2 linked regions of the Homo sapiens genome follow. Changing the gene in region 1 together with any one later gene gives a genetic interaction. Each region holds a gene or a part of one and is shown in the gene's direction. Other genes may lie near its edges.

Region 1 (15,878 bases):
ACTCATTTGAGATTCTTTTGGAACATTAGAGAAGTGGTTTTGTAGATAAGTAGAGAGGTTTCAACTAGGGATATGGTTGGGATTCCTAGGTTTATAGATGTGGTTAACTACTGGAAATGGACATGATACACCACAGAGGACAGAATGAAAAGATGGTTCAGTACAGAAATCTGAGGGGCTCCTGATATTTAGTAATAGTTGAATAGAAGAGATGGAGCTTAGGCTTAGAAAACTGTTGGTTCAAGCCTTCAAGATCCTCTACAAAATGTTTCCAGCCACATTTGTTACCCAAGTCATAGTGGATTCATCTCCTTGCCTTTGTACCCATTTCACATGTTGCTGTCATAAGGAGACTCTTTCCTTATTTCTTAGATAAAATATAAATCTTTTTTTTTTTTTTTTTTTTTTTGAGACTGAGTCTCACTCTGTTGCCAGGCTGGAGTGCAGTGGTGCGATCTCAGCTGACTGCACTCTCCGCCTCCCAGGTTCAAGCGATTCTCCTGCCTCAGCCTCCCGAGTAGCTGGGATTACAGGCACGCGCCACGACGCCCAGCTGATTTTTGTATTTTTAGTAGAGATGGGGTTTCACCATGTTGGCCAGGATGGTCTCGATCTCTTGACTTCGTGATCCACCTACCTTGGTCTCCCAAAGTGCTGGATTACAGGTGTGAGCCACCACGCCTGGCCAGAAATCCTTACTCAAGGCTTTGTGATATTCACACTAAATTGTATTCTGATTATTTGTATGTTTGGCTTATTCTCTATAAAGATTAAGGATGCTCAGTTAGTATTGATGGATTAAGTATATTTTGATAGAAATGGCTGTGATTTTTAAATATAGCCAAATTTCTGTTCTTACCTGGTACCAGCAATAAATGTGTTGAATAAATTAATCAACAATAGAAAATGCAGATAAGGAAAAAGAAAAAAATATTAAAATCACTTGAAGTTCTAACACATCTTTTCATATGATAGTTTCTCAATCTACTTGTAATGTTTTTGTTTTTGTAATAATTGTGTGGGGGTTTTTACATTTTATTTTTGTTCATGTTTCTGTGGGTTATTTTTGGAGGGGAGGGCACATTTTAAAGATATCGCAGTTCAGAAGTTCTGTTGTGAAGCACTTTAGTTTAAAAATCTGTATACTTTGTGTGCATGTCCCCATGAGCTTGGAGGCATTGCTGACTGGCATCCCTAGGCTCAGTGATTGTCTGTAGTTGTACATTTATTTACAACTACATAATGTACATTTATTTGTATGATTGTGCTTCAGACTGATCTTTGGAGCTAAATTTAGGGAAGCTTTTGGAGAGGTGACTTAGGAAGGCAGGGGCAGTCGGCAGTTCAGGGCTCCTTTACTCTGCATTCCTCAGAGCACTTCTGCATTTCGCTGTTTTCAATGTAGAGATTCTGTTAGAACTTCCTTTTACAAATGTTTTTCCTTTTGAAAATTGTTATGCTGCTGGTATATGACATGTATCTTTAAATCAGATTTCATAGTGTAATATAGATCAGCAATGACGTTTTCTTGTATCTTATCAATTAGGGATTATGGGGTTCATGGGATCTGTCTTTCTTTTGTAAGCTTTTTAAAGATGACATCAGGTATCTGTTGACAATGGACAAACTATGGCGGAAAAGGAAACCTCCAGTTCCGTTGGACTGGGCTGAAGTACAAAGTCAAGGTAAAGAATACATTTTAGTCTTGGAACACCTAAGCTGGAAATATCCTCGCGTAAAGTCTTTGTATAGCCCTGTTGTTGCTTGAAAATGATATGTCTTCATATATTCAAACAGTGCAAAAAAATATGAAGAACAAAAGTCACTGAAGTCCCACACTTCAGAAATAGCCACTAATAACATTTTCAGGAGTGTTCTGGTGGTCCGCCCTATGTACACAGATGCAGGCATTCGTTATACACTGCGTAAATGGAATCATACTATTGATAAACTCTCACTTGCTTTTGTCAGTCAGTATAGTTAACTAGTCTCTTATTAACATGTAGTGTTTTTGTATTTTCCCTGAAATAAAGTTTTGAAATTGCTATATATTTATGTATATCTTTTTTTTTTTTTTTTTTTTTTTTGAGACCGTGTCTCGCTCTGTTGCCAAGGCTGGAGCGCAGTGGCACGATCTCAGCTCACCGCAACCTGGGTTCAAGCGATTCTCCCGCCTCAGCCTCCCGAGTAGCTGGGATAACAGGTGTGAGCCACTGCGCCTAGCCTATTTATGTACACCTTTGTACCCTTGTGATTATCTCTTTAAGATTTAATCTAGAAACACATTTTTAATGTAAAATTTTTTTAATGTTTAGAAATGAAAAGTTTTTTGAGGCATAGTCTTGCTATGTTGCCCAGATTAGAGTGCAGTGGCTGTTCACAGGCTGTCATAGCACAAGGCATCCCTGGACTCCTGGGCTCAAGCCATCCTCCTCCCTCAGTCTCCTGAGTAGCTGGGACTGTATGCAACTGTGCCCAGCATATTTTAAAATTTTAAATGTAGGAAAACTATTGTAGTGGCTGCTTTCTCATCCCACTCCCCTTTAACACTCCTTGTCTCTCCTTTATCTGAACTGTATTAGGATTAATTTATGCACAGCAGTATAGCACCCATTGAAACTTAAAAGATCCCGGGAGACTTGGGATATCATTTTGGAGCAGTTCTCAACAATCAGGGATAGTTATCAAACAGATTTAATTATGACTCTAGTAGTGTCCGCTTACTGAGTTCTCATTCTCACTAGGTGCTGGGCCTAATGCTTATTTATCATCTTATCTACATTATATCTTCAAATCTCCCAGTAATCCTATGAGGTACTGAGGTGGTCTTGTACCTTTCCTATCTCAGGTTTAACAGTTTTTTTTTTTTTTTTTTTTTTTTTTTTTGAGACAGAGTCTTGCTCTGTCGCCCAGGCTGGAGTGCAGTGGCGCGATCTTGGCTCACTGCAAGCTCCGCCTCCCGGGTTCGCGCCATTCTCCTGCCTCAGCCTCCTGAGTAGCTGGGACTACAGGCGCCCGCCACCATGCCTGCATATTTTTTGTATTTTTAGTAGAGACGGGGTTTCACCATGTTAGCCAGGATGGTCTCGATCTCCTGACCTCATGATCCGTCTGCCTCGGCCTCCCAAAGTGCTGGGATTACAGGCGTGAGCCACCGTGCCTGGCCCCATGATAATTATTTTAATGGAATTTATTTCATATTTGATTTCTTAATGGTCGGGGATTGAACTTGTTAAACAGAGCACAGTAGAGGAATGATGTTAATTAGTGAAATTTCTAATATATATATTTTTTTCTTTAGGAGAAGAAACGAATGCATCAGATCAACAGAATGAACCCCAGTTAGGCCTGAAAGACCAGCAGGTTCTAGATGTAAAGAGCTATGCACGTCTTTTTTCAAAGAGCATCGAGACTTTGAGAGTTCATTTAGCAGAAAAGGGGGATGGAGCTGAGCTCATATGGGATAAGGTTCGTTTTGACAATGTGTGGCAAGTACTTACATGTCAAAAGTGTGTTTTAGTTCTTGAGATGTAATAGAAGCTAGTCATTTTTTGAATATTTACTAGATTTTGAGGAAATATATTGATTTGGCTTGGATATTTTCAGCTCTAATTGCTGTATGGAGCTGAATTTTCTGTACATGAATTCAAGCAATATCATAAAACTTCATTTGGGATTCTAGTGATGTGTTCAGGGTTTATAATTATGTTGACTAGAAAAATAACGTGAATATATTAAAGTGAAATGTTTCTTGTGTAGAGTAGATGTATTCATAGAAGTCATAAAATCATTTGGAGAAAACATCTCATTGGCCTGATTTGCCCTTGAAAATAGTAAGATTGTCTTTGAATTGAAATAGTTATTACTATTTCAGAGGTCTGAAAGACAGAGCTCTTGATACAAAAATGAGATGTAATTATTCTTAGAAGTTAAAATCATATTTAATAGTACTCTGCAGTTATGTCATCTTTTGAGATTTGATATTATGAACTAATTTTACTTAATTTTAATTGTAATCAGTATTTTCTATGGCTAAAAGTGTTTTATCTCATGAAGCTTGTATGTTCCTGTGGTGTTGAAGATTAGTCATGGGTCTTAAGGCATAAAGGCCAATTTTAGAAACCTAAGAAAAATTTGTGTGTACATATTTTGAAACTTTGGTTGAATCAGACATCTAAATACACTAAAATGAAGCTAGTATATTTAGATTCTTGGGATTCTTATAAACATTAGTCTCTTGGGTTTTGTGATATTTAAAGGGTAACTTTTCATATTTTCATTGTTATTGTTATGCTAGTGATTTGGGAAGTTTGATTAGTGCACAGAGGCTAAATAAAGAGCCCTTGGAATGGGAATTGTTATCCTCTTGAGTAAAGTCCACATGTAATGGGTGTGATAAGACAGCTGCTTAGGGAAGACACTGTGTTGAGTATTCAGTATTCTTAGTCCTCACCACACCTTATGAGATGGGGATATAATTTCCCCTATTTAATAGATTAAGAGATTTTGACTCAAGGAATTTGACTTGCCTGAGGATTCACAGCCAGCCAATAAATACATAAAGAACTATGCTCTCAGTATTTTTTCTTCTGTTCTGTGATGCCTCTGAATTTTAGACCAGGGTGATATCTTCTCAGTTCAAAGCAGGAAGCCTTGCTGAAATCTAGAGACTAGGATATAGTCTCAGGAAAAATACAAATCGTAACAGGAAAAACTTGGATTGTATTGCCTTATTTGAAGAAACAGCATATGTGAGAGAGTGGTGCATATGAAGAGAGTTTGGCAAAGGGGAGTGAAAAAGAGTCATCCAGGTTTTTCTGAAGTGTTAATGAAACAGCTTTTTTTTTTTTTTTTTTTTAATTGAGACAGGGTCTCACTCTGTCACCAAGGCTGGAGTGCAGTGGCATGATCTTGGCTTACTGCAGCCTCTGCGTCCCGGGTTCAAGTGATCCCGCCACCTCAGGCTCCCGAGTACCTGGGACGACTTTAGGTGTGCGCCACCATGCCTGGCTAATTTTTTGTGTTTTTGGTGGAGATGGGGTTTTGCCACGTTGCCCGGGCTGGTCACAAACTCCTGAGCTCAGGCAATCTGCTTGCCTCAACCTACTAAATTGCTTGAGACTACAGGCATGAGCCACCATGCCCAGCCTAAAACAGTTTTCTTAAATTGCTCGTCTTTTGGCCTGGATTCTGTGTTTGTCCAGCAACCTTCTCTTTACTGATGAATGGAACCAGGAAAGGGTTGCCATTGTCAGTGAGTGGAATTGAGATTCCGGTGTATACAACTGAGTCTCCGGTGCCTTTGTTTAGGCTGGAGTGAGTTCCTAGAAGCTGGTGATTCTTGGTGTTCTTGTCAGACTCATTACTGGACCAGAGGAGCTGATGATGAGACCCCACCCCCTACTTAACCCACCTCCATGCTACTGTGAGGTCCTAGCTGACTGGTCTTTCCCTCAGCAACCTCTTGTTCTAGTCGAAAGTCTATAGTATTATAAACACGTGAAAGTATTGTTCTGAAAGTAATGCTTCAAAATAGTCAATTTGTGGAGAAACTTGTTAAATTGTTTAAATTATTGGCAGGATGACCCATCTGCAATGGATTTTGTCACCTCTGCTGCAAACCTCAGGATGCATATTTTCAGTATGAATATGAAGAGTAGATTTGATATCAAATGTAAGTTATTTGTACTAAAGTTGTATCACTAAAACCTTGAAGTTGTTTTTTAAACAGTGAAACATACTCATCCTTTTTTTTTTTTCCCAGCAATGGCAGGGAACATTATTCCTGCTATTGCTACTACTAATGCAGTAATTGCTGGGTTGATAGTATTGGAAGGATTGAAGATTTTATCAGGAAAAATAGACCAGTGCAGAACAGTGAGTATTTCTGTTTGCATTTTTATGCAACCCCCCTTAAAAAAATCATTAATTAAAAGTACATTAAACAGATAATTTTTAAAATGAAAACAATAAAATTGGTTTAAAGCAATGGAAAAGTAATTTTTCTGGTTACCAAGTGAGTGTGTGTTTAAGCTTCCTGGAAATTGCAACAAAAAGGAAAAATTAAGAAGTTGCTTTTGCTTTTAACATTTCCAATTTTACTGAATTCTTCGAAGAATTCATTGTGCGGTCCTTATACTAAGAAGATGTTTCAACTGTTTTTCAATTCTGAGAGTGCTATATGGGTTTTAAAATTTGCTTGGTCATTTTATAGTCCCCTGTTCAGTCATTCTCCTATTGAGTCATTCTTTTCAATTTTATTGTATAGTTTTTGATAATGTTAATGTCTGAGATCTTTATGGGTGAGTCTGCTGTCATTTCTGCTATTTCTCGTAGTGATTTGCTTGTATGGTTTATGATTTTTTAAAAACTGAATGTGTATTAGAATTGTGTCTGGTAATTCTTTAGGGACCCATTGTAGATGTATTTCTTCAAAGAGCATTTGTGGTTATTATATTTGGGTGCTTGGGGCACTGCCAATACAGGACCACTTTTAAATTAGGATTTTCAATACCTATGTATTCAGACCACAAACCTGCACGTGCCCTATGTTATTGTCATGAATTATATGGGAAGATACTCCTCCCCCTCCACTAAGCACCAAGTTTAAGATCATTTTTATGGAGAAAGTATTTTTCTCCTCTCTTTTCAGGTCCTTGCTTTGTGTAAGGGTCTCCTGTTTTAAGAGTTCCTACCTTAGTGGTGGGTGGGGTAGGTGTATCTCTTAAGGCTAACACTACTTGGATGTTCTCTTTGGATTCCTTCCTTCGATGTTGTGTCTGCAGACACTTCGCTTTCTTACCAGCTCAAGAAGGCTTCCTAGGAAATACTAGCCAATACTTTGACTGTTGTTTAGGTTCTCCTTTTTATCATTGAAATAAAAAGACCTGTTTACCTTCAGAAATTTCAAAAAATATCTAGTTTGCAATGGTACTGTTATTTTGCAGTGTCATTGATGCACACTTACTTTTTTTTATCTTTTGAGACGGAGTCTAGCTCTGTTGCCCAGGCTGGAGTGCAGTGGCACAATCTTGGCTCACTGCAACCTCCACCTCCCAGGATCAAGCGATTCTCCTGTCTCAGCCTCCTCAGTAGCTAGGATTACAGGTGCATGCCACCATGCCGGCTAATTTTTGTATTTTTAGTAGAGACGGGTTTCACTATGTTGGTTAGGCTGGTCTCGAACTCCTGACCTCATGATCCGCCCACCTCGGCCTCCCAAAGTGCTGGGATTACAGGCATACAGGCATGAGCCACTGCGCCCGGCCTTTTTTTTTTAAACTGATGGGGTCTTGCTATGTTGTCCGGGTTGGTCCTGAACTCCTGGGCTCAAGCAGTCCTCCCACCTTGGCCCCCCAAAGTGCTGGGATTACAGGTGTGAGCCACTGCACTTGGCCCGATGCGCTCTTTTTTTCCTTTTCTTTTTCTTTTTTTTTTTTTTTTTTGAGGTGGAATCTTGCTCTCACCCAGGCTGGAGTACAGTGGAGTACAGTGATGTGATCTCGGCTCACTGCAACCTCCACCTGCTGGGTTCTAGCGATTCTCCTGCCTCAGCCTCTCAAGTAGCTGGGATTACTGGCACATGCCACCACACCTGGCTAATTTTTGTATTATTAGTAGAGACGGTGTTTCACCTGTTGCCCAGATTGGTCTCAAACTCCTGGCCTGAAGTGATCCGCCCTTCTCAGCCTCCCAGAGTACTGGGATTTCAGGCGTGAGCTATTGCGCCCAGCCTCGATGCACTCTTAAAATATTTTATTTTCATGAAATTTCAGTTTGAAGGAACAGAATCAAATTGCCCAGTCTGCCATCTTGATTTAGTTTTCTATTTAAACTTTTATTGTATATGTTATATTTTTAATTTCTAAGAACTTTATTTTTTGGTATCTTTTTTTTGAGATGGAGTCTTGCTCTGTCACCCAGGCTAGAGTGCAGTGGCGCGATCTCAGCTCACTGCAACCTCCACCTCCCAAGTAGAAGTGATTCTCCTGCCTCAGCCTCCCCAGTAGCTGGGATTACAGGCGGGTGCCACCACGCCTGGCTAATTTTTGTAGTTTTAGGAGAGACAGGGTTTTACCATGTTAGCCAGGCTGGTCATGAACTCCTGACCTCAGGTGATCTGCCCACCTTGGCCTCCCAAAGTGCTAGAATTACAGGAGTGAGCCACCGTTCCTGGCCGATACCCAGTTTTTAAATTATTTAAAAAAAATTTTTTATAGCAGCCTGAAGCTGTAGTATCCCTTTGAGCTCACCAACAGTACTAATTACTGAACTTATTAAAATGTCTGTTATTTCCCATCACATCCTTCCGGTTTCTTTGCCTGCTTAGCTCCATGCCACTCTTGGACTATTAATAGTAATATATCTGGCCGGGCACGATGGCTCACACGTGTAATCCCAGCTCTTTGGGAGGCCGAGGCAGGCAGATCACCTGAGATTGGAAGTTCGAGACTAGCCTGACTAACGTGGAGAAACCTGGTCTCTACTAAAAAAAAAAAAAATATATATATATATATATATATATATATATATATAAAATTAGCTGGGCATGGTGGTGCATGTTTGTAATCCCAGCTACTCAGGAGGCTGAGGCAGGAGAATCACTTGAACCTGGGAGGCGGAAGTTGCATTAAGCCGAGATCGCGCCATTGCACTCCAGCCTGGCAACAAGAGCGAAACTCTGCCTCAAGAAAAAATATAGTAATATATCTGGATTTCATTTTTTTACATTTGCAAATGAATTCCAGCCTGGATTAATGTTAGCCCAGGTATTAATAGTGGTAGCAATTGCTTTTATTATTGTCAGTTTCCCTTAGCACACTTACCTTCCCGGTGAAGCCCAAAATCAAACAAATCTTTCTCCCTCTGTAGCCTGCTTGGCCTGGGCAGTTTGCTTCTAGCCCTTCCACCTACCAGTATTCATTGTACGGAGAAGCTATTTTACAGAGGACGGCTTTAGTGTCTCTTGAGGGATTTAGTTCTGTATTCTCAGGGGAATCCGTAGAGTACTCCTTTAGAATTCATTCCTCTTAGCAGACTCAACACTACATTGTAGTCACAAGATAAAGGTTTGTGTCTCAGCTTCTTGTCTTCTGACATTTGTTGTTTCTGTTGGATCTTGCTAGTGTTTTCTAAACTTTAGTAGAAGCAGGAGCTTGGAGCTTTTCTTAATTTCAGTGTAATTTGTATATTTGCCTTGGTTCTTAATTATTTTTTTGTTTAGTATTAGAGAAATGGTAAATAGGTACATATACTGCCAGAAATACATTTTTTTCCCTCATTATATAAATGTTATTCTAATCAGAAAATTTGGGAAGGCAGTGATGTTGATTCTAGACAACTGTGAAAGGCACTATCGTTAACTGGAGAAATTAATGTGTTGGTCTTGTCAGGAGATTGCTTGCTTGATAAGAATAGCCTCAGGGAGGGACACCAGCTGCTGATACAATGATGGCACCACAGATTAACATGCCTGTGCCCTTACTCTTGCCAAATCAGGTTGCAGAAGAACGCGGAGTCTTATATAATACAAGGAGATGTCTTTTCAGCAAGCCTAGCTAGCCTAGCCTTTAGCTGATTAGAAAAGAAGGTTGAGGCCGGGCGCGGTGGCTCACGCCTGTAATCCCAGCACTTTGGGAGGCCGAGGCGGGCGGATCACGAGGTCAGGAGATCGAGACCATCCTGGCTAACACGGTGAAACCCCGTCTCTACTAAAAAAAAAATACAAAAAATTAGCCGGGCGAGGTGGCGGGCGCCTGTAGTCCCAGCTACTCGGGAGGCTGAGGCAGGAGAATGGCGTGAACCCCAGGGGGCGGAGCCTGCAGTGAGCCGAGATTGCGCCACTGCACTCCAGCCTGGGCGACAGCAAGACTCCGTCTCAAAAAAAAAAAAAAAAAAAAAAAAAAAAAAAAAAGAAGGTTGAAAAACCAGGTTCCTAAAAAGGTCATGATTTTCCTGATCCATTTTGCCATCTGGACGGGAATTTTTAAGTCATTTTTTATTGGATATCTGGTAAACGAGATTTTAGATTGTATGGCGTATAAAATTACAGCACGTTTCCGATTTCTGCCTGTTATTTCTCCTCCAAAGATTTTTTTGAATAAACAACCAAACCCAAGAAAGAAGCTTCTTGTGCCTTGTGCACTGGATCCTCCCAACCCCAATTGTTATGTATGTGCCAGCAAGCCAGAGGTGACTGTGCGGCTGAATGTCCATAAAGTGACTGTTCTCACCTTACAAGACAAGGTCAGTGCAAGGCCTGGGTCTCTTTTCCTTTTGCTTTTACAGTATTACTGTGATGACAAACAAACACTAGCTGCTGATTCTGAAAAGGTCCAACTGCAGAGATGTGTGGCTGTGATTTCCTGGGTTATTTTGCCTTCTGGATTCCTGCAGGCTTTTCTGTCTGTGGTTCCAGAATAAGTGCCTCACATTCCCAGAATGGAGTAGGAGTATTTGACTGGAATCTGCAGCACAGTGGTGGCACAGTATCACAGCAAGCAGAGGACTTCTTTGCTCTTTGCTTCCCAGGCAGTGGGTAAATTCTGTATTTTTTGACAAATAACAGGTATCCTTGAATGGTCCTCACTGTGGCAGTGAGCAGATAAGTATTTGCATGCAGTGCAAAGTTTGCATTTCCAGTAGAGCAAAGCCCCAGTTACCAGCTTTGTATTAAAGGGTATAAGTAACTTGCAGAGTTTTGGTTTCTCTGCGTGTTGGACAGTGCCCACTCCCAGCAAATTAGGGGGCTTTTGTTATTTCTGAGGTCTGAGTTGAGGCTAAGTGGTGGTACACACTTATCTAATATGACCTGATTCTGATATGGTAAGTTAGTCCCTGAGGACATAGGGCATTTGCACACCTGGATTCACCTCTGGAGCTGAAGCGAGGGAAGAAATGGGGGTTTAGGACATGGTCTGGTCCTTAAGTTCCTGTTAAATTGGCTAGATTTGTGTATTAGGGGAGATTTTCTTTTTTTATGACCCAAAAGTGTCACTTTCCACTTTGGGATCACTTCCTATTGTTCTCTGGTTGTGACCATCATAATGCTACATATTTACATGCCTCTTGAGAGAGGAGGAAGTGGCCCTTCTCAAATAGCAGTGCTGCCTGATAGGGAATGGCCTTTCTTCCAGAAACTGGTTAGGCAGGACGGATTGATTTGAGCTTATGTTTTGGTCAAGGAAGTGGCAGGTACAGCAGCGGGTGGTTGCCCCAGTTTCTTTTCTAGGAAATAATTATCTTTGGTATCTCCTGATTCTTGAGCTTCAAGGTTATTCCTCTATTTGTAGGATTCTTAGACCTATAGAGAGTTCCTCCTTTTTTCCTTCTTTCTTTTTTAGGAGCTGGTAGGATTTAACAGAATATTATCACTTCTCTAAATGCATGGAACGGGGAGACTTATCTGAGAGTCAGGTTAATGAGAACTGATTCCATCTATGAAACCCCTGCCATTACAGGGTTGGCACAGAGACTGAAATGAAATATGTCAAGTGTGTAGCTCACTACCTAACCTGCAGGGAAAGACAAAGTAGCAAGAGCCAGCCAGGGAGTTCCTAGTCCCCTGTTGAGATGAAGTTGGATCTGATCTGCATCAGTGGTCAGATGTGGGGATGGAACTCAGGTGAATCCCCACGGCTTTCCTGCTTGCTCTAAGGGATCTTGAAGAGTGACTTCGCCGGTTTCCAATAAATAGAAGGGGAAAGTAAGAGCCTTTATAGAAGTCTAGGATTTCTTATGATCTTTAATTACCTACGTTAATATTTTGAATCCTTTTTTTTTTTTTTGTAGATAGTGAAAGAAAAATTTGCTATGGTAGCACCAGATGTCCAAATTGAAGATGGGAAAGGAACAATCCTAATATCTTCCGAAGAGGGAGAGACGGAAGGTATCATACATTGTATTTATTCATTCCTCTCATTGAGGAGACTGCTTGAAGAGTGCACATTAGTTGATTCATTTACTGTATGTGATACTCAGTATTGCAGAGAGTGGCAGTGTTTGGTCATGAAGGTGCTCTTTCAAGGTGACATTGCTGGGGGTCATCACACTTCCATGTTTGGGAACTCCATGTCAGACATTTTCAGGGACTGCAGTGCTCTTGTCCACTTCCAAGGAACCTCCTTGCCGATATCATGGATCCTGGGAGCTAACCTTGTGATGAGAAGACTATTCTGTCTGTCAGATCACAGTGGGTAGGGTTCTAAGGCATTTGGAGATTTTTCTCCAAGAGTGGGGAAGCCTTGGTAGCCTGTTCCTACTATATAGCAGAAAGATTATTGAAATTCAGTGCCCGGTTTTGGCTTTCTGATCTTTCCTTTCAAAAGTTCAAGCAGTTCATCCCTTTTGCTAACACATTTGCTATACAAGGTACAATACATTTGATTCTGTTGAAGCTTTCATAGTAAGGATTGCATCGTAGTTATTCCTCCTTCAGACTGTACTCGTTGATCCTATACCTCCTTGGTCACTTTTGCAGCTCATTTCTTGAGTTGCTGTTCTCGTTTTTTCCATGTCCCAGTTTTTGCCAGTGTACTGTTATTTTCGAAGGTTTCTAGGCCCTGTGTTTCCCTGTATATTGACTTAATTCATACCTATTTGTCCATTGGTCATTTATTCATACTTTGTGAGGTCCTGATGGCGATTCAGATGTTAAGCCTTCTTTAAATTCAGGTTTAGTGTCAAGGTTCTTCTTGGTTGTAGTTGCTTGTTGAGAAATTTTTTGGGCTATTAGGTCATGTGTAATTGGAGGCCATGTTTTGGCTGTGTGGTGCTCTATTTTAGGAGTCTACTTGAGTATTCAAGCCTCATTCTAGCCAGCTGACTTTTAAAAAAATGTTTGTTTGTGATTATATGCTGTCCCTTAGTTGTAGCCAGCTCTTTCAAATGCTAGCTTAAAAATGGAAACTGGTCAGGAATTTCAGTGGCTTCAGCGTGACCCTTCTGTACGGAATACATGTGGTATGGAGGGTGAGACAGCACTTACCAGAATATGTGTGGAGTCCTGTATGACAGGCATAGTTTTGGGTATTCATAAGTCAAGGATGAATAAGACAACAGACCTTGGCTTGAAGTGCCTTGCAGCCTGGAAGAAGGGAGATTGTCAACAGCTGGATTGAGCATCGTCCAAGGAAAACTAGAAAGAGTGTGTACACAGTATGAATCTAAGGAAAGTATATTCAGCTTTGTGAAACGGAGGGGGAGTAATAGGAGAGGGAGTACTCTTGGGTCAGTTTTTGAAGTAGTAGTGAGGACTCCCTGGACAAAGAAGAGAGCATTTAGACAGAATGAACATCTGTCTACAAAGGTGTGAACTTGTGAAACAACCTAAACTGCCTTGGGAGTGGCCCATTATTTGGTTTCGCTGGAAGTTGGGGTGCTGAGGGGTTGGCAGCAGTGGTGAGGTTGAAGTCTTTCTTGTCACATGTGCAGTGTGTGTCTTCCTCCTCTCCCTTGACCCCTACCCTCCAGAGGAAGGGGCAGTATTTCACTGCCACCTGCCACCAGGGTTTAAACAGGGGAGTAGCAGGGAGCTATTAGGGAGGAGGGGATTGAGGGATTTTTACTAAGGCAGAGGCAGGTGATAGATTTGAGATTTGCAAAGTCAGAACTTGGAGCCCAGTTGAGGAATAGCATTACAATGTTAGCAGCGTTGTTAGGCGAGCACAAGACTTCACAGGTGATGCTAGTTCACCAAAATGTGAACCCACATTAACTGGTTTTCCTTTTGAATGTGATGGTTCCAAGAGGTTTGCAGTCAGTGGAGATGTGTGAAAGGGCTTGGAGGTGGAAATCTGGGTAAGAATGCCAAGGGCATTCCTGGTAGATTAAAATGGTAAAGCAAGCAACAGATCTGGAAAAGAACTAGGAGAAACTGTTAGTATTTTCTGGGTGTCAACGTAGGGAAAGGCGTTCTAAGCGTTTTCCTTATAAATAATGAAAAAATGTTAAAAAGCCAAAAAAAAAGTGGGGGGAGACTGAAAATTGAGATTATATAGAAAATTGGGCTTGGTGCACTGGCTCACACCTCTAATCCTAGCACTTTGAGGGGCCGAGGCGGGCAGATCACTTGAGGCCAGGAGTTTGAGACCAGCCTGGCCAACATGGCAAAACCTCATCTCTTGTAAAAATACAAAAATTAGGCCGGGCGTTGTAGCTGTAATGCCAGCACTTTGGGAGGCCGAGGTGGGTGGATCACCTGAGGTCAGGAGTTGGAGACCAGCTTGGCCAATATGGCAAAACCCTGTCTCTACTAAAAATACAAAAATTAGCCAGGCATGGTGGAGGGGGTGCATTTAATCCCAGCTATTCGGGAGGCTAAGGCAGGAGAATCGCCTGAACCTGGGAGGTGGAGGTTGCAGTGAGCCAAGATGGTGCCACTGCACTCCAGCCTGGACAACAGAGTGAGACTCTGTCTCAAAAAAAAAAAAAAGAAAGAAAATTAGTTAGGCATGGTGGTGCACACCTGTAGTCCCAGCTATTCTGGAGGCTGAGGTAGGAAGACTGCTCAAGTCTGGGATGCACTCTGGCCTGTGTGACACGGTGAGACCCTGTCTTTAAAAAAAATTGATTTGAATGGGGAAAAGTTTTCAGAATTTCTCAGTTTGGTCCCCCTGAAGTAGTTTCGGTAGTTAAGTGTTTTAAGACTGAATTCCCAGCGTTTTAATGTTTTAGGGTACTAGGGCCTCCATAACAAATACCACAACCCAGGTGGCTTAAACAACAGAAATTTATATTCTCACAGTTCTGGAGGCTGGAACACCAAGATGAAGGTGCTGGCAGGTTTGTTTTATTTTAAAACCTCTCTCCTTTGCTTGCAGATAGCTGCCTTTCTGTTGTGTCACATAGCCTTTCCTCTAGGGGTGCACATCCCTGATGTCTCTGTCCAGATTTTGGGATTGATTGATTGATTGATTGATTGACTGGAGACAGAGTCCTAAAAATTTTTTTTGCTGCTCTGTTGCCTAGCAGGCTGGAGTGCAGTGGTACAGTCACACGCCTCACTGTGTAACTCCTGGGCTTCAGGAATCAATCCTTCCCTGGCCTCCCAAAGTGCTGAGATTATAGATGTGAGCTACTGTGCCTGCCTTCCTCCTCCTATAAGGACATCAGTCAGATCAGATTAGAGCCCACCCTACTTGCCCCATTTAAATTTAATCATTCCTTTAAAAAGTCTTATCTCCAAATACAATCAGATTCTGAGATACTGGGGATTAGGGTTTCAACCTTTGGATTTTGGTGAACGGGACACAAATCAGCCCATAACAGAGGTTTAGCTTTTTAAAAAATCAACCTGACTGCTCTATGAAGATGTAACTGAAGTATCTAAATTATTCACGTTTCCTAGCTAATAATCACAAGAAGTTGTCAGAATTTGGAATTAGAAATGGCAGCCGGCTTCAAGCAGATGACTTCCTCCAGGACTATACTTTATTGATCAACATCCTTCATAGGTAAGAGCTATTAGTATTTTAATTGTAAGAAATTATTTGAATATATAAACTTTAGACAAAATGAAGGAAAAGTGTTTTCTTATCCTTAAACCCTGCTGTTCATTTGAAACTGTATAGTATATTTGGTTGAGTTGGTCACTGAGTTCCGTGATGTTTGACCTACAGAAAAATTTGAGGATTCAGAAATTGGCGGGGTGTGGCGGATCACCTGAGGTCAGGAGTTCGAGACCAACCTGGCCAACACGGTGAAACCCCGTCTCTGCTAAAAATGCAAAAATTAGCCGGGCATAGTGGCAGGCGCCTGTAGTCCCAGCTACTTGGGAGGCTAAGGTAGGAGAATCCCTTGAACCCGAGAGGTGGAGGTTGCAGTCAGCCGGGATCGCGCCATTGCACTCCAACCTGGGAGACAGAGTGAGACTCCAACTT
Region 2 (15,878 bases), on another chromosome or scaffold:
CGTCTTTAATCCATCTGGAATTTTTGTGTCTGTGGTGGAAGTTAGAGGTCTAATTTTACTATATGGTTGGCCAATTGTCCCTTCTCACCCCATCCATTTTCTACTGATTTTTAATGCCATCCCTATAATATACTCGAGTTCTCATATAAGTTTGTTTTTCTTTTCTCTGTTACATTGATCTCTGTGTACTTCCTGGGTCACTGACATATCTGGTAAACTATGCCCCACCCCTCCTTCCCCGCCCCCATCAGCTTTATTCTTCTTCAGCATTGTCTTGGCATTTTGGGGCCTCCTGTTCTTCCATATGATTTTGGAATAAGCCTGGAGACAACTTTTAATGGAATTGCATTAAAATGATAGATTATACATTTATAGGTTAATTCAGGTGCAGTTGCCATCTTCTCATCCTTGAACATGAAATATTTCTCTATTTACATCTTTTTTATCTTTCAATAAAATTACATATTTTTCCTCCTAAAAGCCTTGTACATTGTTTGTTGGATTTATTCCACAGTATCTTATAGATTACTTGTGACCGTTAATGGTATTTTAAAACTATATTTTCTTCAGCCTGGGCAACATAGCGAGACCCCAAAAAATACAGTGCTCTACAAAAAAACAAAATTACCTGGGTGGTACCTGTCTGTAGTCCCAGCTACTGAGAGGCTGAAGAGGGAGGCTCACTTTAGCCCAGGAGGTTGAGACTGCAGTGAGCTGTGATCATGCCACTGCACACCAGCCTGGGTAACAGAATGAGACCCTTTCTCAAACAGTAGAAAATAAGCCAGGCATGGTGGCTCACGCCTGTAATCCCAGCACTTTGGGAGGCCCTAGGCAAGAGGATCACTTGAGTCCAGGAGTTCAAGACCAGCATGGGCAGCATAGTGAGACCTCGTCTGTACAAAAAAATTTTAAAAATTAGACCGGCATGGTGTTGCACGCCTGTAGTCCCAGCTACTTGGGAGGCTGAGGCAGGAGAATGGTTTGAGCCTAGGAGGCTGACGCTGCGGTGAGCCATGATTGCGCCACCGCACTCCACCCTAGGCAACAGAGTGAGACCCTGTCTCAAGAAAATAAATAAAAATAAAATTGTACTTTCTAATTATATGTAGCTAATGTACAGGTATGCTTATTTTTATAAATAAGTTTTTTATCTAGCATTTTTTCTGAACTCTTTTATCTATTTGTTATCTTGTGTTTTCTACAAAGACAACCATATAATCTGCAAATTATGGCAGTTTCTTCCTTTTAAATCCTTATAACTTTTCCTTATTGCCCAAATTAGAACCATAATACAGTGTTGACTAGAAGGTGTGATAGGTACAACATTAGGATGCTCACTGGTTTTTTTTGTTGTTGTTGTTTGTTTTTTTTGAGATGGAGTCTTACCCTGTCGCCTAGGCTGGAGTGCAGTGGCGCGATCTCGGCTCACTGCAAGCTCCGCCCCTGGGTTCACACCATTCTCCTGCCTCAGCCTCTTGAGTAGCTGGGACTACAGGTGCGTGCCACCACACCCGGCTAATTTTTTGGTTTTTTGTTTTTTTGAGACGGAGTCTCGCTCTCTTGCCCAAGCTGGAGTGCAGTGGTGCTATCTCGCTCACTGCAAGCTCTGTGTCCCGGGTTCACGCCATTCTCCTGCCTCAGCCTCCCAAGTAGCTGGGACTACAGGCACTCGCCACCATGCCTGGCTAATTTTTTTGTCTTTTTAGTGGAGATGGGGTTTCACTGTGTTAGCCAGGATGTTCTCAATTTCCTGACGTTGTGATCCGTCCGCCTTGGCCTCCCAGAGTGCTGGGATTACAGGCGTGAGCCACCACACCCAGCTGGATGCCCACTGATTTTTAAAGAGAATGCTTCTGGCCAGTCACAGTGGCTCACACCTGAAATCCCAGCACTTTATGATACTGAGGCTGGCAGATCACCTGAGGTCAGGAGTTCAAGACCAGCCTGGCCTACATGTTGAAACCCTGTCTTTACTAAAAAATACACAAATTAGCCAGGCATGGTGGTGGGCACCTGTAATCCCAGCTACTCAGGAGCCTGAGGCAGGGAGAATTGCTTGAACCCAGGGGGCGGAGGTTGCAGTGAGCGGAGATCATGCCACTGCACTGCAGCCTGGGCAACAGAGCGAGACTCCATCTCAAAAAAAATAAATAAATAAATAAATAGAATGTTTCTATTGTTTTATCATTAAGTATAAAGTCTGCTGTATCTATTATTTTTTAAAAATGTGACTTTAAAAAATAGTAGGCTAGGAGAGATGGCTCACACCTGTAATCCTAGCACTTTGGGAGACTGAGGCTGGAGGATCACTTGAGGCCAGGAGTCCAAGGCCAGCTTGGGCAACATAGCAAGACCCTTTCTCTACCTTTTAAAAAATAACAAACAAAAATAAAATTTTAAAAAGTAAAAATAGTATATTGCTTCCCTCCCATTGTTCATCTATCTATCTATGTACATTTTTTTTTGGAATTTTGTTTTGTTTTGTTTTGTTTTTAAAGACAGAGTCTTACTGTGTTGCCCAGGCTGGAGTGCAGTAGCACGATCTCAGCTCACTGCAACCTCCACCTTCCAGGTTCAAGTTATTCTCCTGCCTCAGCCACCTGAGTAGCTTGGATTAAAAAGTCTGTGCCACCATGTCTGGCTAATTTTTGTATTTTTAGTAGAGACGGAGTTTTGCCATGTTGGGCAGGCTGGTCTCGAACTCCTAGCCTCAACTGATCTGCCCACCTTGGCTTTCCAAAGTGCTGGGATTACAAGCATGAGCCACTGTGCCCAGCTATATATATTTTTGTGTTTGACACAGGGTCTCACTCTATCACTCAGGCTAAAGTGAGTGCCTTGGTGTGGTCATGGCTTGCCGCAGCCTCAACCTCCTGGGCTCCAGTGATTCTCCCACCTCAGCCTCCCATGTAGCTTGGGACCACAGGCATATACCACTATGTCCGGGTAATTTTTTTTGTTTTTAGTAGAGATGAGGTCTAAACCCAGGCTGGTCTCGAACTCCTGGGTTTAAGCAATCCTCCTGCCTCAACCTTCCAAAATGCTGCGATTATAGGCATGAGCCACTGCACCTGGCCCCCTCATTAATTTTCTAAGGTCAAACTATCCTTCTAGTCTTGGGCTAAATTCTAATAAGTTGTGTTGGTCTAGGGGTTTTTTTTTTTTGTTTCTTTTTTTTTTTTTGGTAGTTTTTATATTGCTGGGATAAATTTGCTCTTACGTTATTTAGTATTTTTGTATTTGTGTTTGTAAGTGAAATCCACCTAAAGTTTTCCTTTGAACTGTCCAATTTGGTTATCAAGGTTATACTCATAAAATAAGTTGGTTAGTTTTCACTGTCTTTGTTCACTAGAATTGTTTGTATTTGTAGGCTGGGTGCTGTGGCTCACGCCTGTAATCCCAGCACTTTGGGAGGCTGAGGTGGGCGGATCATGAGGTCAGGAGATCGAGACCATCATGGCTAATACGGTGAAACCCCATCTCTACTAAAAATACAAAAAATTAGCTGGGCATGGTGGCATGCGTCTGTAGTCCCAGCTACTCAGGAAGCTGAGGCAGAAGAATCACTTGAACCCGGGAGGCGGAGGTTGCAGTGAGCCGAGACCACGCCACTGCACTCCAGCCTGGGCGACAGAGCGAGACTCCGTCTCAAAAAAAAAAAAAAAAAAAGAATTGTATTTGTAAGAGATTACATACTCTTGCATGTTTGATAACACATAAGGTAAAGGAAAAGAAGGTAGAAATAGGTAAGATTAGAATATTGAGTCATGTGGCAGTATGTTATAAAGGCTGCCATGGAAATTCCAGAGGGAACTACAAGAATGCCTGAGCAGTTTTATGTTCCTGCAGAAATTACCCTTACTATGTGCTGGGCACTGTTACAAATAATTTGTTTAAGGGTATAGTTGAGGTGGGATACCATGAATTTGTGATGGATGCAGTCTGCCTTTTTGGGGGGGGACTTTTTTCTACTGTTTCACTGCCTACCTTCCTCTACTTCATTGTACTCAAGGTAAGCCTCATTATCATCAGTGTTGGCTTTCACAAGGATGCAGTCTCATGACTTGGCCTTTGTAGGAAAACACCATTAGAAGAGTAGATGGTTGGGTAGTGGCTCTCTTCTTCTTCTGCTTAGACTCTTGTCTACTATGAATAAAGGGCTCTATTTGCAAAGGCCGTGATGGGTTGAAGCACATTGAGAAAGAGGCTACTGAAACATAAGTTACCTTTCTCGCCCAGGTGAGATTTCAATGGAAAAAGTGAAGGTAAAGCGTTATGTGTCCGGAAAAAGGCCAGACTATGCCCCTATGGAGTCCTCAGATGAGGAGGATGAAGAATTTCAGTTCATTAAGAAAGCCAAAGAACAAGAAGCAGAGCCTGAGGAACAGGAGGAGGATTCATCCAGTGACCCCCGGCTACGGCGTTTACAGAACCGTATTAGTGAAGATGTGGAAGAGAGGTAATGTCTGTGATTGTGTTTACTTGAACATGAACCTCTACAGCTTAATAATAATAATAATAGCTAATACTTGAATAGTACTACCAAGTAGATTACATTTGCTAATTCTTGTAATCCATACAATAACTTTATGAAATAGGTGCTATTATCCCCATTTCACAAAAGGAGGAAACTAAGAGCACAAAGGGGCTAAGAAAGTTACATGACCAAAGCTACAAAGTGGCAGCTTCAGGAAACAGCAGGTTACTTCTGGCCTAAAGGACCTACTCAACTCCTTATGGGAATAGAAAACACAGACCATTTGTTGGCTGTTGAGAGGAGTCTTTTTAGCACAAAGATGTTTTATAAACTTTGGTAAATTGATTTTATACATCTACTTATTCTAAATGCTAATAAGGGGAAATGACACTGAAGTAGGAGAAAAGACCTTATAAAGGTCTCATGGTAGAAAGAGAGCCTCCCAGTGAGGGATTTTGTATGTTATATATTGATGGAGACATTACTTTATAGAGTAGGCCAGGAGTCCTGAACTTTCACCGTTCATAATTGTCCCAGGAGTTTTTTCACAGAGCTCCTGGGCCAAAACAGTTCTGTTTATTTTAGTTATTAAGTAGTTAGAGCCAAGTAACTTAATAAGTATTTATGTCCTAATAACTTTGCCACTTGAAGATTAACAGTGCCCATGGCCAGGTGCGGTGGCTCACGCCTGTAATCCTAGCACTTTGGGAGGCTGAGGCGGGTGGATCACGAGGTCAGGAGTTCAAGACCAGCCTGGCCAACTTGGTAAAACCCCATCTCTACTAAAAATACAAAAAAATTAGCCAGGCCTGGTGGCGGGCACCTGTAATCCCAGCTACTTGGGAGGCTGAGGCAGAGAATTGCTTGAACCTGGCAGGCAGAGATTGCAGTGAGCCGAGATCACGCCACTGCACTCCAGCCTGGGTGACAAAGCGAGACTCCATCTCAAAAAAAAAAAAAGAAAAGAAAAAAGAAAAAAAAATAAAATTACAGTGCCCAGGGGGGAAAAAACACTTTTATTCATTCTCACATAACCATAGTTACTAGTGGAATTTGTTTGCCTGTTGGACACTGACAGCCTTTCAAACCTTGGAATCAGCACTGTCACTTTTTCATGTCTTGTTTTATATTGATTTTCATACTATACTTTCTTTTACTTTTTATCACAGCAGCCACCAAAACCCAGTTTCACAAAGACACGATATTCTCGAAAGGAATGTAGTGTGACTTAATGTTGAAAGTGAATTATCTTGAGCTATTAAAAATATTCCAATGCAGGCCAGGCTCAGTGACTCATGCCTGTAATCCCAGCACTTTGGGAGGCCTAGGCAGGCGGATCACCTGAGGTCAGGAGTTCAAGACTAGCCTGGCCAATATGGCGAAACTCCATCTCTACTAAAAATAAAAAAATTAGCTGGGTGTGGTGGTGCATGCCTGTAATCCCAGCTACTCGGGAGGCTGAGGCAGGGATTATCACTTGAACCTGGGAGGTGGAGGTTGTGGTGAGCCAAGATCATGCCCTTGCACTTCAGCCTGGGTGACAGAGTGAGATTCTGTCTCAAAAAAAAAAAAATCCCAATGCATCCCTATGAGTTTGCTGGCTTGCTGTGGTGCCCCAGGATGCCTCAACATACATTTAGTATTTCAGGCCCAACTTGACTATTCGCTCTGACATCCTAGTTTAGTTTCTTTAATCTGCACCTCAGTTTCCTCCACCTCAATACTTTAATACTGGATGGACATGGTGGCTCACACCTATAATCCCAGCACTTTGAGAGGCTGAGGTGGGCAGATTGCCTAAGTCCAGGAGTTCAAGACCAGCCTGGGCAACATGGTAAAACCCCGTCTCTACAAAAAATACAAATATTAGCCAGGTGTGGTGGCACGCCTATAGTCCCAGCTACTCAGGAGGCTGAGGTGGGAGGATCACTTGAGTCTGGGAGGCAGAGGTGGCAGTGAGCCAAGATCGCACCACTGCACTGCAGCCTGGGCGACAGAGCAAGACCCTGCCTCAAAAAAAAAAAAACTTCAGTATTAATGAAGGCAAACATAATGTGCTCTGTGGCTATGGAAATGCAGTTGATGCTACTTCATTTTTATGACATTGGTGTTACATTTGGAGATACTGTTTTTCAGATTGGCTCGACATCGAAAAATAGTGGAACCTGAAGTGGTAGGAGAGAGTGACTCAGAAGTAGAAGGAGATGCTTGGCGCATGGAACGAGAAGACAGCAGTGAAGAAGAGGAGGAGGAAATTGATGATGAGGTATGATAAAGGAACATGGGAAGTTTTTTTCTGGATATAAGAAAAAGTTCATGCCAGTGCTCATTTGTTGAAGCCTTAAAAACATGAGATCACTGCTTTGGCAGGACTCTGATCATGTTCCTTGTTTGTGGGGATAGGATTAAAAATAGAATGATACTAAGTTGTATCTTTTTACATTTGAATTTGTTGTGTTTGATGAGACGAACAAAAAGCCATAGGCCATTTGACTGACTGGCTTATATATATGACTTGATAGGAAATAGAGCGGCGGCGTGGCATGATGCGTCAGCGAGCACAGGAGAGAAAAAATGAAGAGATGGAAGTCATGGAAGTGGAAGATGAGGGTCGTTCTGGAGAGGAGTCAGAATCAGAGTCTGAGTATGAAGAGTACACAGACAGTGAAGATGAGATGGAGCCTCGCCTTAAGCCAGTCTTCATTCGAAAGTAAGTATCTCACAAGCCAGATCTGAATCCACTTAATTACCACTTTCCAGGCCTGGAGACAAAAGTCTGTTTTCTGTCTTGCTATTCTGAAATCTAAACGCTGAGTGAAAGTGCTTTTGCTAGTGCTCTACCCTTGGCAGACTAGCTGCTGAGGAATATCTTGGCGTTAGCAGAGAACCTGAGTTTGTTTTCACATCTCTTTTTTCAGTAATAGAGCATATATCTGTCCAAGGCCTTTTTTTGTTTGTTTGAGACAGAGTTTCGCTCTTGTTGCCCAGGCTGGAGTGCAATGGCATGATCTCGGCTCACCACAACCTCCACCTCCTGGTTTCAAGCAGTTCTGCCTCTGTCTCCCGAGTAGCTGGGATTACAGGCATGCGCCACCACGCCTGGCTAATTTTGTATTTTTAGTAGAGAGGGGGTTTTTCCATGTTGGTCAGGCTGGTCTCGAACTCCCAACCTCAGGTGATCCGTCCTCCTCAGCCTCCCAAAGTGCTAGGATTACAGGCATGAGCCACGGCACCAAGCCAAGGCCATATATTTTTAAGCACAAAATTAAACTCAACGAGCAAATTCCTATTCCTTTCCTGATGGCTAGAAATCCTACTGCTTAGAGGCCAGCAGGTTCTTTGCTGTCTAGGCAGTTCTCAAAGATGAACATGATTTTAGTCCTCTAAAGACCTGGGATGATGGCTGGGCACGGTGGCTCACGACTGTAATCCCAGCACTTTGGGAGGCTGAGGTAGGTGGATCAGGAGGTCAGGAGTTCAAGACCAGCCTAGCCAAGATGGTGAAACCCCATCTCTACTAAAAATACAAAGAAATTAATCAGGTGTGGTGGCAGACTCTTGTAATCCCAGCTACTCAGGAGGCTGAGGCAGAGAATTGCTTGAACCCAGGAGGCGGAGGTTGCAGTGAGCCAAGATCACACCACTGCACTGCAGCCTAGGCGACAAGTGAGACTCCGTCTCAAAAAAAAAAAAAAAAAAAAAGACCTGGGATGACTCAGCGTTTTTTGCTCTTTGAAAATAATAGAGCCAAAGATTGTTTGGTTTTTGTCTGATTTGGATGGGACTAGGTCTAGGGGAACAAAGCACTCCACTCTAAGGACTTTGGGCAATTAACAGGATCTCTGTGATGCAGGAAGGACCGAGTGACAGTTCAAGAACGTGAAGCCGAAGCATTGAAACAGAAGGAGCTGGAGCAGGAAGCAAAACGCATGGCTGAGGAAAGGCGCAAGTACACACTCAAGGTACTGGGGAGTGGTTGCAAGGAATGAGTACAAGAAATAGTGTAATCAGGTTTGTCTGAGGAGAGTAAGGAAGTCCAAGCTGAATTGTTCTCCCTATCCAGATTGTCGAAGAGGAAACCAAAAAAGAGCTGGAAGAGAACAAGCGATCCCTGGCTGCATTGGATGCACTCAATACTGATGATGAAAATGATGAGGAGGAATATGAGGCATGGAAAGTTCGAGAGCTAAAAAGAATCAAGAGGGACAGAGAAGATCGAGAAGCGTGAGTAAAAAGATGAGCCTAGAGTTAATGCTGCTAATGGAACAGGTTTCTAGCAGGATAGCTCTGAGACTCATTACCTACTGTGAGTTCCATTCTAGCCACCTTCAGAGTTCTTGTTGCTTTGTGAGTTTCCTATAATTGGAATATGAGTTTCACTTGCTACAGTGAAATCAGGGAAGAGAAAAACACTTTGTCGATGTGTGTCCATAATAGAGTGCCAGCCAGTGCTCCCTTTAGTTTCCTAGTAGACACAAAAATTAGTAACTGTTAGTAGTTATCTCTTCTTGTGTACAACCCAACCCACAATTGAGTGACTTGAAACTATAATTTATTACTTTTCACAACTTTGGAGGTTGGCTGAACAGTTCCTCTACTGATTTCACCTGGGCTTACTTATGTAGTTGCATCCAGCTGGAAGGTTGACTGGGCTGGAAACTTAAAAGGGCTTCACTCACATGTTAGTAGTAGGTGGTGGCTATCAGTTAGGATACCTCACTTATCCTTCACTGGATTAGACTGGCTTCCTTACATAGCAGTCTCAGGGCACCATTCTAAGAGGGCAAGGTCTTCTGACATGTCGGTTCCAGAACTCATACATCGATCTTGCCACATACTGGTCAAAGCAAGTCACAAGGCCAACCTAGCTTTAAGCAGGTGGAGAAACAGACTCCACCTCTGCAGAGGAGGAGCAGCAAAGTCATACTTTTTGAAAAGGGGCATACATACTGTGAGGGGAAGAATTTGTGGCACTTAAATAATCTACACTGTGTTAGAGCAGAATCTTTTTTTTTTTTTTTTGACATGAAGTTTCACTTTTCACCCAGGCTGCAGTGAAGTGTCACAATCTCAGCTCACTGCAGCCTCCGCCTGCCAGGTTCAAGTGATTTTCCTGCCTCAGCCTCCCAAGTAGCTGGGATTACAGGCATGCGCCACCATGCCTGGCTAATTTTCGTATTTTTAGTACAGACAGGGTTTCACCATGTTGGTCAGGCTGGTCTCGAACTCATGATCTCAGGTTGTCCACCCAACTCGGCCTCCCAAAGTGCTGGGATTATGGCATGAGCCATCATGCCCGGCCCCAGCAGAATCATTTCTGAGCTGCATCACTCATTCCTGTAAATTACTAGGTATGAGAGGGTAATCCCAGATTACAAAGGAAACCATCAATAGATAACTCTAGGCTGGGCGTGATGGCTCACACCCATAATCCCAGCACTTTGGGTGGCTGAGGCAGGCGAATCACTTCAGGCTGAGAGTTCAAGACCAGCTTGGCCAACATGGTGAAAACCTATCTCTACTAAAATACAAAAATTAGCTGGGTGTGGTGGTGTGTGCCTGTTATTCCCAGCTACTCGGGAGGCGGAGGCAAGAGAATCGCTTGAACCCGGCAGGCAGAGGTTGCGGTGAGCTGAGATCGTGCCACTGCACTCCAGCCTAGGTGACAGAGTGAGACTCTATCTGGAAAAAAAAAAAAAAGAAAAAAAGAAAACTTGCCTGAGTATGAGCTACACACAGTAGATAACTCCATACTCAGCCTGTAATTTTTTGTTTTTGGTTTTTTTTTTTTTTTTGAGACACAGTCTCACTCTGTCGCCCAGGCTGGAGTGCAGTGGCGCAATCTTGGCTCACTACAACCTCCACCCCCTGGGAGTCAAGCGGTTCTCCTGCCTCAGCCTCCTGCGTAGCTGGGACTACAGGTATATGCCACCACGCCCAGCTAATTTTTGTATTTTTAGTAGAGGTGGGTTTTCACCATGTCGGCCAGGCTGGCCTTGAACTCCTGACTTCAGGTGATCCACCCACCTCGGCCTCCCAAAGTGCTGGGATTACAGGCATGAGCCACCACGCCTGGCCCTCAGCCTGTAGTTTCTAAGATTTTTATCCTGGACCTGTAGGAGTAGGAGTCTAAGTGCCCTTTAAAATTGTACACAAGGCCGGGCGTGGTGGCTCACGCCTGTAATCCCAACAATTTGGGAGGCCGAGGTGGGCGGCTCACAAGGTCAGGAGTTTGACACCCGCCTGTCCAACATGGTGAAACCCTGTCTGTACTAAAAATACAAAAATTAGTCGGGCATGGTGGCACACACCTGTAATCCCAGCTACTCAGGAGGCTGAAGCAGGAGAATAGCTTGAACCTGGGAGGCAGAGGTTGCAGTGAGCCAAGATCATGCCACTGCACTCCAGCCTGGGCAACAGAGCAAGATTCCATCTCAAAAAAATATAAAATTGTACACAAAATTGTGTGTATGTATGCATTTTATTTGGAGACAAGGGATATCACTCCCTCTCCCCAACACTGGCTAAAAAGTTACTGCAATCTGGCTGGGCGCAGTGGCTCACGCCTATAATCCCAACACTTTGGAAGGCCAAGGCGGGCGGATCACGAGGTCAGGAGATTGAGACCATCCTGGCTAACACGGTGAAACCCCGTCTCTACTAAAAATTCAAAAAGATTAGCTGGGCATGGTGGCGGGCACCTGTAGTCCCAGCTAATCGGGAGGCTGAGGCAGGAGAATGGCATGAACCCAGGAGGCGGAGCTTGCAGTGAGCCAAGATCACACCACTGCACTCCAGCCTGGGCGACAGAGCAAGACTCCATCTCACCAAAAAGAAAAAAAAAAAAAAAAGTTACTGCAATCTAATTAATGATGGTAATCTTTGGTTTATGACATGCAAGCACCTATATGATTATGATACACTTACATAAAGGAATACCAGCAAAGCCTCAGACACTTATTTTAAATTCACTGATTTTTTTTTTTTTTTAAAGCTAAGAAGACCTTTTAGGGAAAGAGAATTTGTAATGTTGGAAAACCCAGCAGTAATAGTATGTCTGAACGTCAGAAGGGCTAGAATCAACTTTTGAAAGTTGGCAATACCTAGTCTAGCAAACATAATGAAGACTAACTCACCCATTTGTTTATTGAGCTCCTTATCTTGATTCCTAATAGGCAATGACTAGAATTAAAGAAGGTGACTAATACTTGAAATGACATGGGACTGTTATTTTCAGATAATTTGGTCTTTCTGAAGCTGTAACAGTACCAATAAATTGTTTTGCTCCCTGGACAGGCTTGAGAAGGAGAAAGCAGAAATTGAACGCATGCGAAACCTGACTGAGGAAGAGAGGAGAGCTGAACTTCGGGCAAACGGCAAAGTCATTACCAACAAAGCTGTTAAGGGCAAATACAAGTTCTTACAGAAGTATTATCACCGGGGTGCCTTCTTCATGGTAAGAAGTGAAAAGAGAGTCAGAAAATTGGGCAGTAGGAATAACTCAGAAACTTTGAATTATTTTTCTCTTCAAGAATATTCTGGAATGTAATTTCCACTTGCCAGTGGTCAGCTTTCTCATTTGCTTTTTCCTTCTGAACAATATAAACTCAGAGAAAAGCATCAGCAATTGGATGACAGAAGTAGCATCAACTGTTCTCTCTTTTGGCCCCAACTCTCAAAAATAGGAAATGATGTAATAGACTTTTTTTTTTTTTTTAAGAGACAGAGTCTCGCTGTCACCCAGGCTGGGGTACGGTGGTGCGATTATAGTTCACTGCAACCTTGACGTCCTGCGCTTTACACCTGCTTCAGCCTCCAGAGTAGCTGGGACTACAGGCATGCAACAACCATGCCTGGCTTTTTTTTTTTTTTTGGTTATTTTTTTTTTAATTTTTCGTAAAGACCAGGTTTCACTATGTTGCCCAGGCTGGTGTTGACCTTCTGGCCTCAAGCAATCCTCCCACCTCAGCCTCCCAAAGTATTAGGAATACAGGCATGAGCCATCATCCCCAGCCTTAGATAAATTGAGGAAATGAAATAGAGAAGTGATCTGTACAGATAGTGGACTAATTAGGTCCTCCACATGACATAGTTGTCATTCTTTCATAGCTGAATGAGAAGTTTTGGTTATGTGAAAACCAAACTCTGCAAATAGCTTTACATTAATTCACTTTTGGGTGGCAGAAAGTTAGTTCACTTCATTCTGAACTGACAGTACCCAAGAGTAACTAACCAAAAAAAATGGTTTATTATCTAACCATTAGATGGAATGCCGTCATCTTTGTTTTTCATATAAAGACTAAGATCAAAATAGCAATCTGTTAACCCTGTATGGTTTATTTCCTAATGTTAAAGCAGTTTGCACCAAAAACTAGACTAGCTTTTTCAAGTGCCGTGTGGCAAATTCTAAATATCCCCACTGCAACTAAATTCCTGCCTTTCACTGCAGATGCTGTTAAAACTTCAGTGGCGGCTTCCCTGCCACCCTCCAAAATCAGTTTCAGGTCTATCTGATTAGCAGGAAGTGTTTACTTAGGTAGTTTTCCAGCAGATGTAGCTTACTATTCAGTGGAGATTATGAACTACTTCTTGTACTGCTTCGGTCATAAAGTTTGTTTGCTTAAGCAGTTCGCAGCTTTAATAATCAAGTTTCTTAGAGAAGCAGTTCATTGCTAGTTAAGATACATAAGAAAAGTGTATGTGAAAGTCCTTTGGTGGGCCAGGTACATTGGCTAATGCCTGTAATCTTAACATTTTGGGAGGCAAGGCCAGCAGATCAGTTGAGCCCAGGAGTTCAGCCCGGGCAACATGGCAAAACCCCATCTCTACAAAAAATACAAAAATTAGGCGTGGTGGTCCGTGCCTGTAGTGTCACCTATCAAGGGGCTGAGGTGGAAGGATTGCTTCAGCCCGAGAGGTTGAGGCTGCAGTCAGCCGTGATCGTGCCACTGCACTGCAGCCTGGGTGGCTGACCAAGACTTTGTCTCAAAATAAATTGTTTTTAAAAAGTCTTTCTTAAACAAGATAGTGCTATTTTTAATTCCTTCAGCATATGTGTTTATAAATATGTATCACAGCATTGTAATATTATCACTCAGGCTAGAGTGCAGTGGTGCAGTCATGGCTCACTGCTGCCTCATTCTCCTGGGCTCAAGCAGTCCTCCTGCCTCAGCCTCCTGAGTAATTGGGACTACAGGTGTGTGCCACCACACCTAATTTCTATTTTGTAGAGATGGGTTTTGCTATGTAGCCCAGGCTGGTCTCAAACTCCTGGGCTCAAACTCTCCTTCCACCTTGGCCTCCCAAAGTGCTGGGATTACAGGCAAGAGCAACTGCATCCAGCCTTACTAATGTTGTTTATTTCATTGAGTAAGTAAGCTTTAGTGCATATACTATGCAAAGGTCACTGTTTAGCACTGTTAGCGAGAATACATAATCACTATAACATAAGTAAAAGTAAAGTACTGTAGGGGTTCTGACGAGAGAGATGTTATATTTGGTAGAAGATTGAAAGGGTTGACGTAAAGGTTGTAACATTTAAGCATTTAAGATGTATAATTTTGGGCCGGGCGCGGTGGCTCACGCCTGTAATCCCAGCACTTTGGGAGGCCAAGGCAGGCGGATCATGAGGTCAGGAGATTGAGACCATCCTGGCTAACATGGTGAAAACCCATCTCTACTAAAAATACAAAAAATTAGCTAGGCGTGGTGGCGGGCGCCTGTAGTCACAGCTACTTGGGAGGCTGAGGCAGGAGAATGGCGTGAACCTGGGAGGCGGAACTTGCAGTGAGCCGAGATCACGCCACTGCACTCTAGCCTGGGCGACAGAGTGAGACTGTATCAAAAAAAAAAAAATTAAATATATAATTTTTTTTTTTGTCACCTAGGCTTGAGTGCAGTGGTGCGATCTTGGCTCACTGCAACCTCCGCCTCCCGGGTTCAAGCAATTCTCCTGCCCCAGTCCCCCAAGTAGCTGGGAATACAGGCGTGTACCACCACGCCCAACTAGTTTTTGTATTTTTAGTAGAGACGGGGTTTCTCCATGTTGGCCAGGCTGGTCTTGAACTCCTGACCTTAGGCGATGTGCCCACCTCAGTATCCCAAAGTGCTGGGATTACAGGCGTGAGCTACTATGCCCGGCCAAGATGTATAGACTTTTTGACATTCGGTGCTGGGAAGACATTCCAGGTGGAGACCAGCAGGAGTGGAGGCAGAAAGCATCAGCTGTGAAGGGAAGCGGCAAAGAGAACTGAAAAGGTGGATTAAGGCTGTATAATATTTGGCCTTGATTACTACACAGAGGAGTTGTATTCATTTATTTATTTATTTATTTATTTTTGAGATGGAATCTCGCTCTGTCACCCAGGCTGGAGTGCAGTGGTGCGATCTCAGCTCACTGCAACCTCCACCTCCTGAGTTCAAGTGATTCTCCTGCCTTGGCCTCCTGTGTAGCTGAGATTACAGGTGCGCGCCACCAGGCCTAGTGTTTTTTGTATTTTTAGTAGAGACAGAGTTTCACCATGTTGGTCAGGTGGGTCTTGAACTCGTGACCTCGTGATCCGCCCGCCTTGGCCTCCCAAAGTGCTGGGATTACGGGCGTGAGCCACTGCGCCCAGCCTAGGTGTTGTATTCATTTAATAGACAACCATTGAAGTTTTTGAGCAAGGCAAAGATTATAATGAGTTACAGTCTAGAAACATCAGTGCCATGACAGTATGTGAGACTGATAGTAGAGGAAAACTAATAACCCAGGTGGTAAGAGTTTGTAAGATGTGGCAACTGATTGAATGCACACAGAGGTTACTCAGTTTTGAATCTAGGTAATCGAAGAGTACGCTGGTCCTACTAACAGAAAAGTTAAAGAGAAGAGGTTGATATGGAAAGGTTAGGTATTAATAAATGGTTTTCACTTTAGACGTGCATTTCAAGTCCCAATAAAATATCCAACTTATGATATATGAAAGCCAGTAAAAAATCCAGGATTGCAGATTTGAGAGGCCTATGCAGAGTTGAAGTCACATGAGTAAACAAACACATTGAGTGCAGAGAATAAGCCAACCTTCAAGACACGTCTACACTCAAGGAGAAAATTAGGCATAGTTGCATGCACCTGTAGTCCCAGCCACTCAGGAGGCTGAGGTGAGAGCATCGTTTGATCCTGGGAGGTCAAGGCTTCAGTGAGCAGTAGTGACCCCACTGCACTCCAGCCTGGACATCAGGACATCAGAATGAGACGCTGTCTCAGGGAAAAAAAAAAAAAAAAAGGAGAAATACAACAAAGGAAAAAGAATATCATCTCGGCCGGGCGCAGTGGTTCACACCTGTAATCCCAGCACTTTGGGAGGCCAAGGTGGGCAGATCGCAAGGTCGGGATATCGAGACCATCTGGGCTAACACG

Evidence for each region.
Region 2: of UBA2 (region 1) and MFAP1, a change in one rescues a mutant of the other (synthetic rescue), as found in Homo sapiens cells (one study listed by BioGRID).

The regions. Positions count from the first base shown.
Region 1 is NC_000019.10:34,448,680-34,464,557, forward strand, and holds part of UBA2 (SUMO-activating enzyme subunit 2), read left to right. Parts: intron 1-1,585; coding exon 1,586-1,685; intron 1,686-3,301; coding exon 3,302-3,468; intron 3,469-5,580; coding exon 5,581-5,674; intron 5,675-5,764; coding exon 5,765-5,877; intron 5,878-10,089; coding exon 10,090-10,245; intron 10,246-11,790; coding exon 11,791-11,887; intron 11,888-15,346; coding exon 15,347-15,452; exon of another isoform or gene 15,453-15,517; intron 15,518-15,878. UniProt on the Homo sapiens protein: The heterodimer acts as an E1 ligase for SUMO1, SUMO2, SUMO3, and probably SUMO4. It mediates ATP-dependent activation of SUMO proteins followed by formation of a thioester bond between a SUMO protein and a conserved active site cysteine residue on UBA2/SAE2.
Region 2 is NC_000015.10:43,805,813-43,821,690, reverse strand, and holds part of MFAP1 (microfibrillar-associated protein 1), read left to right. Parts: intron 1-4,242; coding exon 4,243-4,462; intron 4,463-6,616; coding exon 6,617-6,746; intron 6,747-7,002; coding exon 7,003-7,190; intron 7,191-8,333; coding exon 8,334-8,442; intron 8,443-8,543; coding exon 8,544-8,704; intron 8,705-11,776; coding exon 11,777-11,936; intron 11,937-15,878. UniProt on the Homo sapiens protein: Involved in pre-mRNA splicing as a component of the spliceosome.